Linked DNA regions of Homo sapiens: region 2 is linked to region 1. Evidence: fine-mapped expression QTL. Tissue or cell type: whole blood. Region 1 holds a variant in brackets; the other region holds the start of a gene. All regions are shown on one strand. Distances are between the middles of the regions.

Region 1 (8,085 bases):
AATCATAACCCTGATTTGGCAGATTCCCTCTTTCCCCTACTCTTTCTCCCCTCTCCCCTAACCTACGCCCTAGCCTGCCCTCAGTCCCTACTCAAGTCTAATACAACCCTGGATTTGGGGCCTCTTCGGTTCTAGACGCCTCCTGTTTAGGTGCTTCGAACACCGGTATTAGGAGGAAAGGAGTCATTTCTCAGTGTGTGCAGAATTTCAGAGTCTGGGGTTCCCCTCCCCTTTTCTCCAAGTGGAAGCTGAGAACAACATTTGGGTCCTTTCCCCAGCTTGGCCGTCTAGGGTTGTAGGAGCTGGGCCTGCTGGAGCCCATGGGATGGCCCTAAAACCCTCCCATTTCTCCCCCTGCCTCCCCCAAGTTCCCACCTGCACGCACACTCCATCAAGGGAAAATAAATGGAGCAAAAAAGAAGGCCGAGAGCGCAGACACCTTCTGCTGTATCACCAGGTCCCCTGGCTGCACCTCAGCTTCCTGCACTTGCCCCTTCTCCCCCACACAAATGTGCCCCCCAAAGTCGGAAGCGTCAAGGGCCAGGGCGGAAAGGCTTGCCGGGCCACCCACTCCCGTCTCCCCAGGACCCTGCCTGGAGGACGCGGGTCTCACGTGGGCGGGGCAGGGGCGGGGCGCGGACTCACCAGCAGGCGCGCGGGCCGGAAGGCAGCGGCCTCGGCCGAGCAGCAGCGCCCGCAAAGGCGCCTCGTCGTCCTTGGGCGGATGGCACTGCAGTCCTGGGGCGCAGTTAGGGGTGTAGACCCCGCACTCCTGCCCCTCCCTCCTGAGACAGCCCTCAGCTTCCGCGCAGCCCTCGGCTGGCGACCCCCCATCCTCCTCCTCCACGCAGCCCCCTGGACAACCCGCCTGCACCCCTTGCCCGCAGCCTGGGCACCGCGCCAAGGCGCCTCCTGGGCTGGCAGCGAGCAGCAGAGCTAGCAGCAGCAGCAGCGGTGGCAGCAGCCTGTGGGGGGTCATGGTCAGGGTTTGTGCCCCGTCCTCTCCTTCCAGAGCAGTCGCAGCGCAGCTGCTGCCCGCCGCCGCCCCTCTGTCTTAAGTAGCCGCCGGCCAGGGGCCGGGCCCTTTAAGAGCCAGGTGAAGGGGGGTGGGGGAGAGGGCAGGGGCATTCCCTAAACTGGGTGGGACTGGAGAGGGCCCCCCCAACCTGGGTCCTCCCCACTCTTCTTTCCCTCTCCCTTTCCAGTTTCTGTTTACTTCCCAAATTGCTCTGATTTTTCTTGCTTTGTTCCCGGGAATCTCGGCCCGGAATTTGGGAGCTGTACAGCTGGCTGGAGGGACTGGAGGGTGGGGAGGAGCGGAAGAAGGGGAGGACGGGAGTGCAATCCACTTAGTGTGTATGTGTAGGACGACGAGGGGCATGCAGGGACCCGGTGGGGAGTGAGAAGACGGGGGCTGAAAGGGAACTGAGAAGAGATGGTGTGTGTGGATCACAAGAGGAGTGGGCAAATGTGGAGGGACAGAGAAAAGATGGAGAGGGTGGATAACGGGGTCTTGGGAAATTCTACTGCTGATGGGAGAAGTAGAACAGGGCAGAGGAGAGGAAGGGCAAAATTGGGAAAGGAGTAAGAGAAAGCACCCTTGAGGTAAGACTATGGAGAAAAGGGGCCCGAGGGGAACCAGACTGGGGTAAGCCAATGGGGGAAGGGCCGGGAGGCAGGGAGGGATACAACTTGAATGAACCGTAGGAGACCCTAGCATTGTGGTGGGCGCATGCGGAGTCTGGAAGGATTGGAGAGGGCTGTGTGCAGGGTGAGAACTGGCTGGGAGGCAGGGAAAGGGGGAAATTGGCAGGTTGAAACTAGAGAGGGAGAGAATTAAAGGAACTCGTATTCGGGATGCTCTTGGGGACAGTGGCCAGAGAGCAGACCCCACCCCCCTCCCCATCCCCGTCCTTCAGGTAAGCTCGCTCCTCCATTCCTCTCCTCTCCCAGAATCCGTTTCCTTCCCTCCCAGTCATCCATGGGGTTTTCTAGATTCATCAGACTGTCTTGTGCCCAGGGGACTTTGGGGAGGGACTACTCAGCATCTTTGCCTACCTACTTGTCCGCCTTCGCTCCAAGGGTCGGGTTCCACCGCTCCCCACCCGCCTTCCCCAGGCAGTGTCCCGCCCATCCCAGGCACTCCTAGCCAGGCCTCACAAGAGAGAGGAAGAGGGATTGTTTCCTTCGGCAACCCACACCCACCCAACTCTGGGTTATGCAACAGGGACCATCTCATTCTTTCCTAAAACAAGGGCTCTGGGCAGTGACTAAGTTTAAATGCTGGGCCCCAAGCAACAATGTCAGCAAGGCCTTCTTGAACTTTTAGGTAAATAGAAATAATACGAACCTCATTGTCAGCACAGCCCGCTTCGCCATGCAACCCTGGGACCCTAGGACATGTGTTTGGAGAATGGTGTTTTCCTGTTTCCCTGAGATACTGATGCAGACTGGAGAGGCAGGGAGGAGAGGGTTGTGGGGCAGCTGATGGGAGAAGCTACTGCTGATGGGAGAAGTAGACCAGGGCAGAGGAGAGGAAGGGCAAAATTGGGAAAGGGGTGAGAGAAAGCACCCCTTCCACCAAGGCTCTTCAACCCCCTGCCACAAGCTCTGACCAAGCTCCCTGGAACCAAGGCTGTCAGAGATGGGTTCCAGAGTACTGGGGTCCTGCTGCACACCCTTTATCACTATTTATTTTGTCCTACACATGGTTCTGGCTAGGGTCTTAGGGTCTTTCTCCTGGACTTCGGGTTGGTGCTCCTGAATAAGATGGAAAGCCTGTGGGAAGTTGGGAAGGGGAAAGAGATGGCTGTGCTCTTGCAGGATCCCAGTGTGGCTCTTTTTTAAATTTAAATTTTATTTTATTTTATTTTAAGTTCTGGGATACATGTGCAGAATGTGCAGGTTTGTTACATAGGTAAACATGTGCCATGTGGTTTGCTGCCCGTCAACCCAACACCTAGGTATTAAGTCCCGCATACATTAGCTATTTGACCTGATGCTCTCCCTCCCCTAGCCCCTACCC[C/T]GCCACAGGCCCCAGTGTGTGTTGTTCCCCTCCCTGTGTCCATGTTTTCTCATTGTTTTCAGCCCCCACTTATAAGTGAGAACATGTAGTGTTTGGTTTTCTGTTCCTGTGTTAGTTTGCTGAGAATGATGGCTTCCAGCTTCATCCATGTCCCTGCAGAGGACATTATCACATTCCTTTTTATGGCTGCATAGTATTCCATGCATTTGGGTTGGTTCTATGTCTTTGCTATTGTGAATAGTGCTGCAATAAACATACATGTGCATGTATTTTTATAATAGAATGATTTATATTCCTTTGGGTATATACCCAGTAATGGGATCGTTGGGTCAAATGGTATTTCTGGTCTGGTTCTAGATTTTTTTTTTTTTTGAGGCAGGTTCTCATTTTATTTCCCAGGCTGGAGTGCAGTGACTCCATCACGGCTCACTGTAACCTTGACCTCCTGGGCTCAGAAGATCCTCCCACCTTAGCCTCCCAGGTAGCTGGGACTACAGGCACACACCACCACGCCTGGCTAATTGTATTTTTAGCAGAGAGGGGGTTTCGACATGTTGCCCAGGCTGGTCTGGAACTCCTGGGCTCAAGTGATCCTTCCGCCTTGGCCTCCCAGAGTTCTGGAATTATAGGTGTGAGCCACTGCACCCAGATTGATGTGGCTCTTTAAAGATGTTTGTCATAGTGATTCATGCCTGTAATCCCAGCACTCTGGGAGGCCAAGGTGGGAGGATCAATTGAGCCCAGGAGTTCCAGACCAGCCTGGGCAACATGACCAAGCCCCATCTCTACTAAAAATACAAAATATCAGCCAGATGTGGTGGTGCATGCCTTTAGTCCCAGCTACCTAGGAGGCTAAGGTGGAAGGGATGAGCCAAGATCACACCACTGCACTCCAGCCTGGAACAACCAGAGTGAGACCCTGTCTCAAAGAAAAAAAAAAAAAAAAAAAAAAAAAAAAAAAAAAGGCTGTGCTACTCCTTTGTAGGTTATCGTTCAGAAAAAGCCCAACACTTTGCCAGCTTCTAACATCCACCACTCCCTCCTCAACCCTCCTCAATTTCCAGCCCCCGCTTCCCACGCTGCTACCACTGCCTCAGATTCTCCCTGCCTGCCGCTCCCACCTGCCCAGCTGTTACTTTCTAGATTCTAAGCCCGATTGCACAGTCCAGTTCCACCCACCACCCCAGGATTACACTTCCCTGTTTCCCCCTCCCTCTAGCATGATCCCCAGTTGTATGGCCATCAGCACTGAGGGTCTAACCGGTCTCTTTGCAGACTGAGACGCTTGAACTCTGCCTTCCTGCCATTGGGATGCCCTCTGCCTTAGTACCCAGGGCAGAAATCTGAAGCACATGTTCAGCACTCAGACCAAGAGTGTGGGCCAAGGTACAAAACTGTCGGATTCTGTCTGGCCTTTGTGTGAGAAGGGTTTGCTGAGAAGTTTCTTCCAGGCTGAGGAAAGGCTAAATAGCTTGGGCTATCACTTAAGCTTTTCCATAAACAAACTCTACTGGAACTTCCTCCTCCGCATCTACATTATACCCTGGTTTTCTGATCCTTCATGCTGTGTCTCTCACACTCAACCCGTCCCTCTAAATTCATGGTGCCCCAAGTGCTGACTTCCTTTTGAGAACAAGGGATAAAGGAAGGGGCCTGCCTGGACCATATTCAGCTTTAAATTTGAGACGAGAAACAGTGGCACAGTCCACAGACAGAAAGTCCCAGAGAGGAAGTTCAATGACCACATCACATCATGACATGGCCTAAGGCTGACGTGGGCCTGATGGGAACTACTGTGTAAACCTCAGCTAACCTGCAGCCTCTGTTTTCTGCCATCTCTCCCACACATACCATCCAAACTGGTCCTGCTGAAATGTGCTCCTGATCCCATAATTCTCTTCTCCTCAAGGATTTCGGGGGCACTTTACTTTTTATTTCTTGGTTTTTAAATTTTACTTTAAGTTCTGGGATGTATGTGCAGAATGTGCAGGTTTGTTACATAGGTAAACATGTGCCACAGTGGTTTGCTGCACCTATCAATCCATCACTTATGTATTTATGTTTTTTGTTTTTCGTTTTTTTTGAGACGGAGTCTGGCTCTGTCGCCCAGGTTGGAGTGCAGTGACGCGAACTCGGCTCACTGCAACCTCTGCCTCCTGGGTTCAGGTGATTCTCCTGCCTCAGCCTCCTGAGTAGCTGGGATTACAGCCACGTGCCACCGTGCCCGGCTAATTTTTGTATTTTTAGTAGAGACGAGGTTTCACCATGTTGATCATGCTGGTCTCCAACTCCTGACCTCATGATCTGCCCGCCTCAGCCTCTCAAAATGCTGGGATTACAGGCATAAGCCACCATGCCCAGTCCATATATTTATGTATTAAACCCCACATGCCTTAGCTATTTGATCTGATGCTCTCCCTCCCCTTGCCCCCCGACCCCACAGGTCCCGGTGTGTGTTATTCCTCGATGTCCTCCCCTACCATAGAACCTGTGCTCCACCTGACATTCAGGGTCCCGTAGACAATGACCCTGAAACACACTCTGCTTCAGTTAGCTGGCTGAATCACCTTCCCCAGAACCCCCTGGTAGTTTCTCATCTTGGGGATTGAAATGGGATAAGGGGAAATGAGGATGAGGCATAATTGGTGCTCAGAGATCATTTCTTCCCCTGAACTCCAAGCTTTCAGCTTACAAGGACCCTCCCTTCACTCCCCTCATCACTAGCCACATTCTTTTTTTTTTGAAACAGGGTCTCACTCTGTCACCCAGGCTGGAGTGCAGTGGCTCAGTCACAGCTCACTGCAGCCTCAACCTCATGGGCTCAAGTAATCCTTCCATTTCAGCCTCCAGAGTAGTTGGGACCACAGCCACGCACCACCACATCTGGCTAATTTTTTAATTTTTTAGGCCAGGTGTGCTTACTCACGCCTGTAATCCCAGCACTTTGGGAGGCCGAGGTGGGCAGATCACCTGAGGTCAGGAATTCGAAACCAGCCTGGTGAAACCAACATGGTGAAACCTCGTCTCTACTAAAAATACAAAAAAATTAGCCTGGCATGATGGCGCATGCCTGTAATCCCAGCTACTTGGGAGGCTGAGGAAGGAGAATTGCTTAAACCCAGGAGGCGGAGGTTGCAGTGAGCTGAGATCACACCATTGTACTCCAGCCTGTGCAACGAGAGCGAAACCCCCCTCAAAAAAGAAAAAAAAGTATTTTATATAGACAGGATCTTATTATTATATTGTCCAGGCTGGACAATATAGGAGCTTGAGCTCCTAGACTCAAGTGATCCTCCCACCTCAGCCTCCCAAAGTACTGGGATTACAGGCATGAGACACCACACCTAGCCCATCATTAACCAAATTCTGGCACCTCTTCCTCACCTACTTGGCCAGTTGACACCCTGCCTTCCTTTTAATTCATCCACATTATTGTGTTGCTATTTTATATTTTTGCTCCTCTTTTCCTGCATCATTTTTCCAGTTAGATTGTGGGTGTTTTGAGAATAGGGCCCCCATTCCTTTTTTATCTCTGGGCCTCCAGCTTCCAGCCCATAGAAGGACTTTAGAATAGACACCAGGAAATATCGGTGTTTTTGGTGGGAGCAAAGGCAGTCCTGGGGGAGGGACAGAGAGGTGACGGAGATACTGCAACACTTCTGGAGGCTCCGCCATCCTCCTGGACCTAGGCGCTAGCCCAGCCTACTCCAGGAGCTCTCTTGGCCCTCCCACCCCTTCAGCGCTTCCTCTCTCTTTTCTTCATCTTCTCCCTGCTCTCAGGTAAAGGCCAATAGTCTGAGAGGCCCAGAGTGCTGTCAGGAGAGGGAAAACTGCCCCGAGGGTAAATCAAACAGGACTTCCCAGGGAACAGGGCTTTACAAGAGAGTTTGGGAGAAGAGATGGATAGGGATGAAGAGAGGGGATGGTGAAGGCATCCCAAGGAGGAAAGCACATCTTTGTGTAACAGTTGTAAAGGTAAAAGGGCAGGGAGAGCAAAACAGCATATGCGTGTTGATGTGTGTGTGTGCATGTGTGCTCCACCTGGGTCCCCAGTGTTTCGGTACATCAGAGGAAGGAGAGCTGGAAAGGGAACAAGACTTTTCTAGACTGGGCTGGAGCCAGCCAGATGATTGGGAGTTGGGAATCATTAGTGAACAAAAAGGAGCAACTAAGGACCTGCGTCTTGCTTTTTAAAATATTTAAATGAATAAAAGTATATTCAGTCATTCAATGGATTCATAGGGCACCTATTTATGTAGATGTAACTGGGAGATATGGACATAAGTAGGAATTGTGCTCCCAGAGAACTTAGTGCTAATATCTGTTTATCCAACATACGATAAACAACTGAGAAAATCAGCCAGGATGCCAGGGTATTCTGGGATAGAATGCAGACTGTGACAAATTAATCTAATTATATTACACATTTATGACACACACACTGAGGAGGGTGAGAAGAAAAGGAGCTGACCTAAGTAACTTTGGAAAACAGTGTTTTCACTGGAAACTCTCAAAGGCTAAAAACAAAAAGAAGAATGCACTTTACAGAAACACTGTACTGTAACTGGTACATCTGTTTCTCATTGGAGTATGGGTTAAAAATTTTGAAAGTGCTTTACATATATATTGGGGTTGAACAAATAAGTAATGAATGTTGGGAGCCAGGTTTCTCACTGTCAGAGGGAGAAGTCACAGATCCACAAGGCTATATAATGAACTCTGTGGTACTGGGTTAGAATGGGAGACAGCAGTGTGAACTTGTATTTAGCTTAATATATAGTCAGATGACTAGATACAGAAACGATTATAGATACCTATATGCACATGGTTAGTATACATACATGTGTTACCTAACTCTGTTGCCCCAGAGGGCCTAGAAGAAATGACACTACAATAACAGTAGCATATCTCACAGCTAGATCTTGGTTTCTAAATACCATTCTCCAAAAAAGGAAGAACGTTTCTCCATTTTTTGGAGAACTGGCTGATTCTGGGTTTGGGGCAGGGAAAATAGATGATCTAGAGCATCTTGTAGCACTAGAAAGTAAGAAAGTACCCAC
Region 2 (8,093 bases), 140 kb before region 1:
GGTGGGCTGGAGCACAGATGTAGTTTGGTCAAAGGCTGGCAGACAGGGAGATCTAACTGAAGCTGAATAGAACCCAGGCAGTTGGTGGGAGTTGGCAGGGGAAGCAGGATGCCTGGGTTCTGGGAGTTTCCATCCAGGGGAAGTCCCAGGTGTGGGTGTGGGGGTGCCAGGCTGGCCCCACCCAACACTCTGGCCCCAGGGGATGTGGGCACAGGGAGGAAAGTGGGTCACAGCAGGGCTGGGACTTAACCCCATTGGTTCCATGACCTCTTTGCTGGCTCTAGAGGAGGCACAGTCACAAAGAGGTCTGCTCCCTCTTTCAAGGGGCCCCCAATTCCTTTTCAAAAGGAAGAGACTTGGAACTTTTGTGTCTGGGTAGGAGGAATTGGAAGCTCTCCAGTGGACAGGGGAAAGAGAACCCCGTATCCCCTGGATGGAGATTCTGTGCAAAACAGACAGCTACATCCACCCACACACTGGCTGGCAGACACCTGTAGCACTCGCCTCACACACACTCCAGGCAACTGTGGAGGCAGACGTGCTAGCTCCAGGGAGTGGGACAGGTCAGGGCTGGATCGGGGGAGTGGGGGCATGGTAGAGCAGGCTCAGAGGAGAAGGCCTTCTGTCTGGTGAGGCTCCAGCTGGGCAAATGCAGGAATCCCTCACCCTGGAGGATTTGCCAGCATGGGGCCTTGTTTTCCATAGTATAATCTCAAGTCTCAGCCTGTGAGTCGTCTTCCCTCTCTGTCTCTGTTTCCCTTTCTGGAGGAAATGAATGCATTCAGGTATCTCAGCGTCCTGCTATGACCACAAGGAGGTACTTACCATCCCTCCCTTTTGGCATATTGAAATCCAAGCACGTCACAGGAATGGAAGGCCCCTCTTTTTTGGGGGCAGGGGGAGCAGACTGGCTGAGGGCCAGGACATCAATTCCAGGGCCTTTGCACATACTCTTGAGCAGCACATATATTTCACTGCCCTTCCTTCTCTCTAATCTCCCTCATTTTTTCTCCGAAGACTTTCCTGATCTCCTTGGCGGAGAATACTCCTCTGCTCCATTCTCATGGTCCCTCATGCCTCTCCACACTGATTATTCTAGTTGCAGTTTTGTGGATTATTTGGTTAACAACTGACTCCATCCGACTGTGAACTTGCCAGGGACCATACCTGGGTATTCCCAGAACCTAGCACAGTGCTTATCACATAGTGGATGCCTAATAAAGATTTGTTGAATTAATGCATGGTGCCTGTTCAGGGAAGAAATTCCCAGAGGTGTTTAGGCTAATCCTAAAATCCTGAGCTTCAAAATTAAGTCCTTATTCTATGTGGGGATCTGGGCAGCACTGGGGCTGGTAAGGACCTTCTACACACAAACTCCCTCACCAGGAGAGTCAACGAGCTGGCAAGCAGCAGAATAGGCCTAGTACAAGGGATGGAGTGGAGCAAGCACCAGAGGCAGGGCTGGCACCAGCACTGGCACAGAGCTTGCCTAGGGGGAGGAGGTGGGAGAGGAGAGGAGGAAGGGAAAAGAGAGGACACGTGTTGTACAAAACATGTTTTCATCACGCTCTCCCTGGGTGCCCTGGTCCCCAAGCCCTGACAGCACTTCCATGCCTTAATGATGTCTTTGGGGGCTGCAACACAGCTCCCCCACCACCCCCTATAGTCATCTGCCAGACACCTCTGAGCATGGCATAGGACATCCCCCACACCACCAGATTTGGGCATGGGGAAATGACCTATTCAGTGTCCTGATGCCGGAGGGTTGGGAGGGGGTGAGGGTGAAAATTAGGGTGGGGCAATTTTCATCCTCACCACTGTCCGCCCCCCCAGCATCAGGGCACTGAATAAGTCATTTCCCCATGACTTTCAGGACAGGTGGGACAGATATCTGCATCCTTTTCCTCTCCTCATAATCTCTCCTTTTGGTCTTTGCTCTGGGATGAGGGGAGCAAACAAAGCCTGGTACTAGGGCCCCCAAGATATCATTTCTCCAAGTTGCCAGGGTGACAAAGTAGAGCAGCCACAAACAGAGCAAAGCCTAGAAATAGGGATGACCCAAGGGAAAGAGGAATGAGGGGAGCCCCCTCCACCAGTTTCCAGAGTGGGAAGCCCTCTTCCCAAGCCTCCTCCTGGAATCTCTGGACAGAAAGCTGGCTCTGTTGCAAGCTGGGGAGTGGAGGGTGGGGAGAAGAATCTGAAGCCCTCACAATGCCCCTCTTCCCTGTCCCCCAATCTGCTGCTGCTGTTTGGTTTGACTTCCAAACTGCTGCAGTGAACAGACCCCAGTCACTGGGTCCTGGGGAGGGGCGGTAGAGGGGGCGGGGGTGGAAGCAGTGGCAATCCCAAGGGGAGGGGCCGGCATAGGGCGGGTCTTCCTGGGCATCGCTGCTTGGCTGCTGTCGTCGGCTGGGGACGAGGAGGCCGCCAGAAGGGAGGAGCTACAGTTACCAAGACGGATGGATAGACAAACGCCCACCAGAGACAAAGACCCGGGCAGACAGACAGACAAACCAAGACAAAGGGAGGGCAGAGACAGTTGGAATTCTGACTCCCTCTGTTTTCAGAGGCTACCCCAAGTGTTTTGTCCCCCGATTTAGGCTTCCCTGGCCCCATTTGCTACCTAGATGCACTGTCTCAGAGCTCCAGCTGTAGATCTTTGGGACCAACCCTAAGCCCCTCTACAGAAGGAGAAGGGAAGAGTTCAGAGAGATGATACTCAGCAGGGAGAGGAGAGTGTCACGGGTGGTGCCTGGTTCTGTGTCAGAATGCCTGGCCAAGGAGGGAGTGGTGCCCTTGCCTGGTTCATGAGGACAGGAGGCTCATTCACTGTAAACCAAGTACAGATGTGCTGGAAGGGGGAGGGGGAAATTAGGGCCACATTCCCAAACCACAACTGGGCCCGCCCTCCTCCCACCAGCCACCACTAGGGCAGGGCAGGAGGGGTTAACTTTGCAGCCTCTTGGCAGGAGCCCTGCCACACAGGCGGGGCGCCATCCCACCCCAGCCTGGACGCCTGGGTCCAACTCCCTGACACCCGCCCCTCCCACACTGCTGAGAGCTGCTCCCAGGGTAACCAAGCAAAGTCAACAGCAGCTAGGCCACCTGGGGACGGGACCCTGGAGTATCTATTCCTAGCTCTTCCTATCCCTGGAGTGAAAGAGAGGGCTTGTCTGCACCCCCATTGCCATCTCCCATTCCCTGAGGTAACCACAGCATGCCTCTTCTTTCCCCCATCTCCTTCACCTGACTTTGGCTACCAAAAGCAGCCTTTCCCAGGAGGGAGGACACCTGGCCCCCAGGGGGGAGCAAGGACAAAGCCAAGTAATTCCAGTATGGAAAATGTGACGTGACCCAGGAGTCTGTGTCCCAGGTCCTGGTCACCCTGCGAGCATTGCTGGGGAAGGTACTTTGGGTATGTCTGTCCAGCCTATCAGCCTAGCTCAGACTCTCCCCTTCTCCTCTTTCTCCCTCCCAACTCCAGTCCCCATGGGAGTGTTTGGGATCCGTGCACAGAGCTTGGACTGCAGACCCATTCTTTTCTCTCCCTCTGTCCTCAGTAGAATGCAGAGTGAAACCACTGGGTTCTCTCACTCTAGGGTTGAGAGTCTGTCTATGTTGAAGCAGATAATGCCCCCATCAGACACAGACACTCACTCTCGGCACTGGCATGCGCACGCGCTTGCACAGACACACACACACACACACGCACACACACACACACCCGGAGTCAACAGCATTCATGGCACATCTACCAGGCAGGCAGGCAGGCAGGCCGGTGCTGGCTAGGGCAGACACACACCCTCTGCCTGGGCTTTCTCTCTCACACCCAGCCCAAGGCTCCTCCCACTCCCAGCCACAGTTCCTCCTGCCCTCCTCTCCAGCCTCTCCCCTTCCAAATCCAGGCCTAAAGGTGGGGGACAACTGGCAGCCAGGGACCCAGGCGCCCTAACTCCTGGAGCTTACTCCAGGCAAGATGACAGGGAAGATGTCTGTGAGCCCTGGCCTCAGCACCCCCAGCAACAGCCACTAGTCAACCAGTTTGCTCCTGGGACCAAAGGACTGAGGTGGGCTAGGGGAAGGGAGAGGCTACTTGGATCTGCAGGTGAAGGCTGAGCAAAGAGTAAGGGCAGGAGCATCTATTCTAGATCTGGCATACTCCTGCCCGGCCAATCCAGCACTGGGAGGGAGTGGGTACCGCCCCATTGCCTACCCTGGGGAGGCGCCAGAGACTGGCCTCGCAAGAGTCACAGCCTGGCCACAGACAACTCAACTAGTCCCCCCAAAAGGCAGAAAGGAGAAAAGTGCCAGAGAGAAAAGGTTGGCATCACGGGGCCAGGACACTGACCTCCTCTGCCAGCCGTGCCCGGCCTCCCAGAGGATGGAGTCACGGAAGCCTAGCAAATGGGAAGGGCAGAGACCCAGGCGTCCCGGGCCGCCCCGCCCAGTCCCCCTCCCGCCCACCCATCCCTCCGCCCCCCAGCCCCAGGGCACAGAGGAGGGAGCCGGGCAGGGGCAGGCAGGGGAGGGAGGAGCGAGGGCGGGAGGGGGAGGAGGGAGTTGGGCAGGGAGGGAGGTTGGGGGGGGGGTGGGGAGGGAGAAAAAGAAAGAAAATATTTTCCGTGTCCCCGCCTGCAGAGTCAGTGTGCGGTTTGGGAGAAAATGTGTCGGATATTTTGGGGCGGTCACGTGGGCGGGCGGGCTCCGAGAGGCCCCGGGACAGTCCCAGCCTAGAGCCGTGCCCCCCCAGGAGCCCCCCAGTACGGCGAGCCCCGGACATTGCGACGCTCCATCCAAGAGACTGCCCGACGCCGGGACCTCGGGGCTCCGCCGCCTCCCTTCCCCCTCCCACTCCAGGTGAGTCAGGCGGGGAAGCAGGCTCGCCCGCCCCGTCGCCTGGGTCCTCCGGCGAGGCGGCTGGGGGAGGGGGCGCGGAGGAGCTGCACGGGCGAATGCCCTCCCGAGGCTGGCCAGGCTGGCCGCCGGGCTTGAGGGGGGCTTCTTGCCCCGACCCAGGCCAGTCCTGCTGTGGGAAGGGAATGGGGAAGATTTTAACAGGCTGAGGATGGGCTGGGTCATCTGCCCTTCATTTTGGTGCATAGCAGAGGACAGCATTTGGGGAAGTCTTCAGCCAGGGGGCATTCCTCCTTATATTTTTGTGCTGGGAATGTGAGAGAAGACAGGGTTTCCTCTCGCGGGGAAAGACTACCACCCCCTTACCCCCGGGCTCTGAGGGGTAGATTTGATGTTCCATGCTGGTCCAAGTTCCTCCCTCCCCAGTGGAATGGGACAGCTTGGACATCAGAAGGCAAGGAAAACGTCCAGAGGCAAGTGAGCCTGGCCCTCCGCGTCCAGGAGTTCCGAAGGACTGGTGCATAGGATAGGGATCTGTGAACTTTCCTTGAAGCGCTGGATTCCCTCCCACACGTTCCCAGCCCAGGTGCGAGCCTTGGCTCCCTCCAGCCAAGGTGGGGGGCACCTCTGGAGTATTCTTGAGGGAAGCCCAAATGGAACAAAGAAAGAGCAGGAAGACCGGGACAGGGACCCAGGAGTGCTGGTCCCAGAGTTCCACTGACGCTGCCTCTCTGTCTTTAGCAGCTACGGCCCAGTTCCCTCAACCTGACCCAGTATGTAGAAGCCAGTCTCTGCAGGCGGCCAGCGGGTAAGAAGATGCTTGGTTGTTAGTGGTGGTGGGGGCAGGGGAGCCTGAGTAGGAGGTCTTCAGGGCAAGAAACTGAGATGACTGTCCCGCTTTAGGGCTCTGGTCCTGGGCAGCTGGAATCCCAATCCTCAAGTCTGAGGCTTCTGCCCTTAGGGTCAGATGCTGAGTTGGGGTCAAGGACCATAGCCAGCATCTCATATCCTTGAGGCAAGTAGAGAGAAGACAGGGGAGTGGGGGTAGTGTGTGCAGGGAGCCTGGAGCTTGGGTATCCCATATAGACAGACATACACACACACACACACACACACACACACACACACACACACACACACGCACTGTGGCCTACAGCCTAGTAGGCAGCATGGGGCACGCCCCCCCACACCCCGGCACACCCCCACCCCTGGCTCAGAAAGCCACCTAACTGGCACCTCCAGTTCCCCCCTCTGCCCCACCCTGTCCATGCCCTCTGATGCCCACACACATTCCACTGGCATTGCCTGCCTGCCTCCTGGGCACTGCCCCTCCCTGGGGCTAGTAGGGTGGAGGGAGGGCACCTGGGGATGAGAGGTGGAGACTCAAGGGTCTGGACTCCCCCAGGGATGGCACAATGCCAAGGAAGCCTGGCCCACTGCTGCCTCCTGGGGAGCAGGCTGGGGGCCCAGGCTAGAGCAGAGGATGCCTGGGTTCTCTGCCCAGGCTGGAGATGGGGTCATGGAAAAAGGTGGTCGTGTTTATACAGAGGGGAGGGGGGCAGCGGGTGGAGAGTGGCCGACAAGAGCAGCTTTGTTCCAGGCTCTGGAGCGGGCAGGGCGACAGGGAAACACACCCCCCTCCATCCGGCAGCCCCCTTCATCCATGCCCTCCCCTCAACTCCACCTCAGCTCTAAGAGAAGCAGCTTTGTAAGAGCCCCTCTCCCCTAGTCTGTCATCCCCGCTGCCCCACCATTTGAGATGGCATCTTAGTAGAGGAAGAATGTTCTCTACTTTCCATGAGTCCCCCAAAGAACCAAGGCACCTGGGGCCTCAGTTTAGGACTTCCTTTTACTCTGCACTGCCTTCAATTCCTTAGTCCATTCTCCTACCCTGGGTTTAAGACCCTCCCCTTCTCTTCCCAGCCACGACAGAACCAAGGCTCAGAAATGGGAGGAATCTCTACCCCCTTCCTCTCTTCACTCAACTCCCAAGTCCCTTCTCTGAGGCAAAATAAGAGGAAGGCCAAGGACAACTCTCATTGGCTCACATGCAGCATCATTCCTTGGTGAGGATCAGGAGCTGAGCATCCCTCTGTGGGGACCCCCACTGCCCTACCTGCCTGTGTTTCCCATTGGTAGGTGAGAAGCAAAGACAAGGAGGGCTAAGGCAGAGAGCCCTGTTCCCAGTCTAAGCCAAGTCTGGGGAACATGGGGATGGGGGAGTCCTCTAGTAGCTTCTCACCCTTGTCATTGGAGGGGTTAATCCACCTGGAATGTGGCCTGGCCAGTTGAGCTGTGGCCCAGGGGCCTCAGGGGCCCCCAAACTCCTGGCTCCATCAGGGCTTAACTAGGGATGAGAACTTCGGAGGGGAATAGGAGAAGGAAAAGGAGAGGGACCCTGGAGGCTTGGAGCTCAGACTTTTAGGGCCTGCGAAGACACTGGGCTAAAGAGTTTGAGGGTGCTGGGTGTATGGGTGGTGCCATGGTGAGGGGCAGGGGATGCTTCATTCATAAGGGCTGAGTGAAATGTGATGGCGTTGGGGTCTGGGTTCTTGTAACCTCCATGACAGTTTACCCTCAAGGGCTTGAAGGCCAAGGTAGAGGAGAGAAAGAAAAACAAGCAAAAACAAAAATAAAAACCAGAGGTATAAAGACTGAGAGCTATACATCCTAGAAGCAAATACTGATGGAAAGAAAGGCAGATATACCCATCCCCTACCTCTGGGCCTGCCCACCCCATGGTCTCTCTGCATTTTAGTCTCTTGGCCCTTCTCTGCCCTTCATAGCAGTCTGTTATGGCTCTGACTGGTGGAGATACCCAGGCTGGGGTGACTTTTCCTCCCTAGCCCACTAACTGCCTAGAGAGGTGAGAAGTTCTGGGGCTCCTAGGAAAGCCAAACTTTTCCTTTGTCAGGGGATGAAGATAGGAACCACCTACTTAGCACTAGGATTCCCATCTCCTCTCTCTACCTCCTTCTCCTCCCCTTCCCCTGGGCTCAGGTTTAAACTCTTAGAGGGAAGCCTACTTTTGGGGGAGGAGAGGTTGCAGGGAGAACTTCCTAGAAACAGGGAGCCCAGGGATAAGAAAGAAAAGGAGGCAGAATGCCCGGGCGTGTCGCTCACGCCTGTAATCCCAGCACTTTGAGAGGCCAAGGTGGGCGGATCATCTGAGGTTGGGAGTTCGAGACCAGCCTGACCAACCTGGAGAAACCCCATCTCTACTAAAAATATAAACATTA

What was found. PIP is the estimated chance that this variant, and not a neighbour inherited with it, causes the effect.
Region 2: RARG starts here. The variant in region 1 is fine-mapped to the expression of RARG in whole blood (INTERVAL, PIP above 0.99).

The regions. Positions count from the first base shown.
Region 1 is chr12:53,090,612-53,098,696 of GRCh38, reverse strand. It overlaps IGFBP6 (insulin like growth factor binding protein 6), which reads right to left and starts at 1,030. Exons shown (of 4, transcript NM_002178.3): 1 at 646-1,030. The coding sequence starts at 979. RefSeq lists silencers at 513-632, 643-722. The variant C/T (reference allele first, on the strand shown) is at 3,026.
Region 2 is chr12:53,228,738-53,236,830 of GRCh38, reverse strand. It overlaps RARG (retinoic acid receptor gamma), which reads left to right and starts at 4,622. Exons shown (of 10, transcript NM_000966.6): 1 at 4,622-4,857; 2 at 5,596-5,662. RefSeq lists silencers at 4,437-4,486, 4,807-4,936.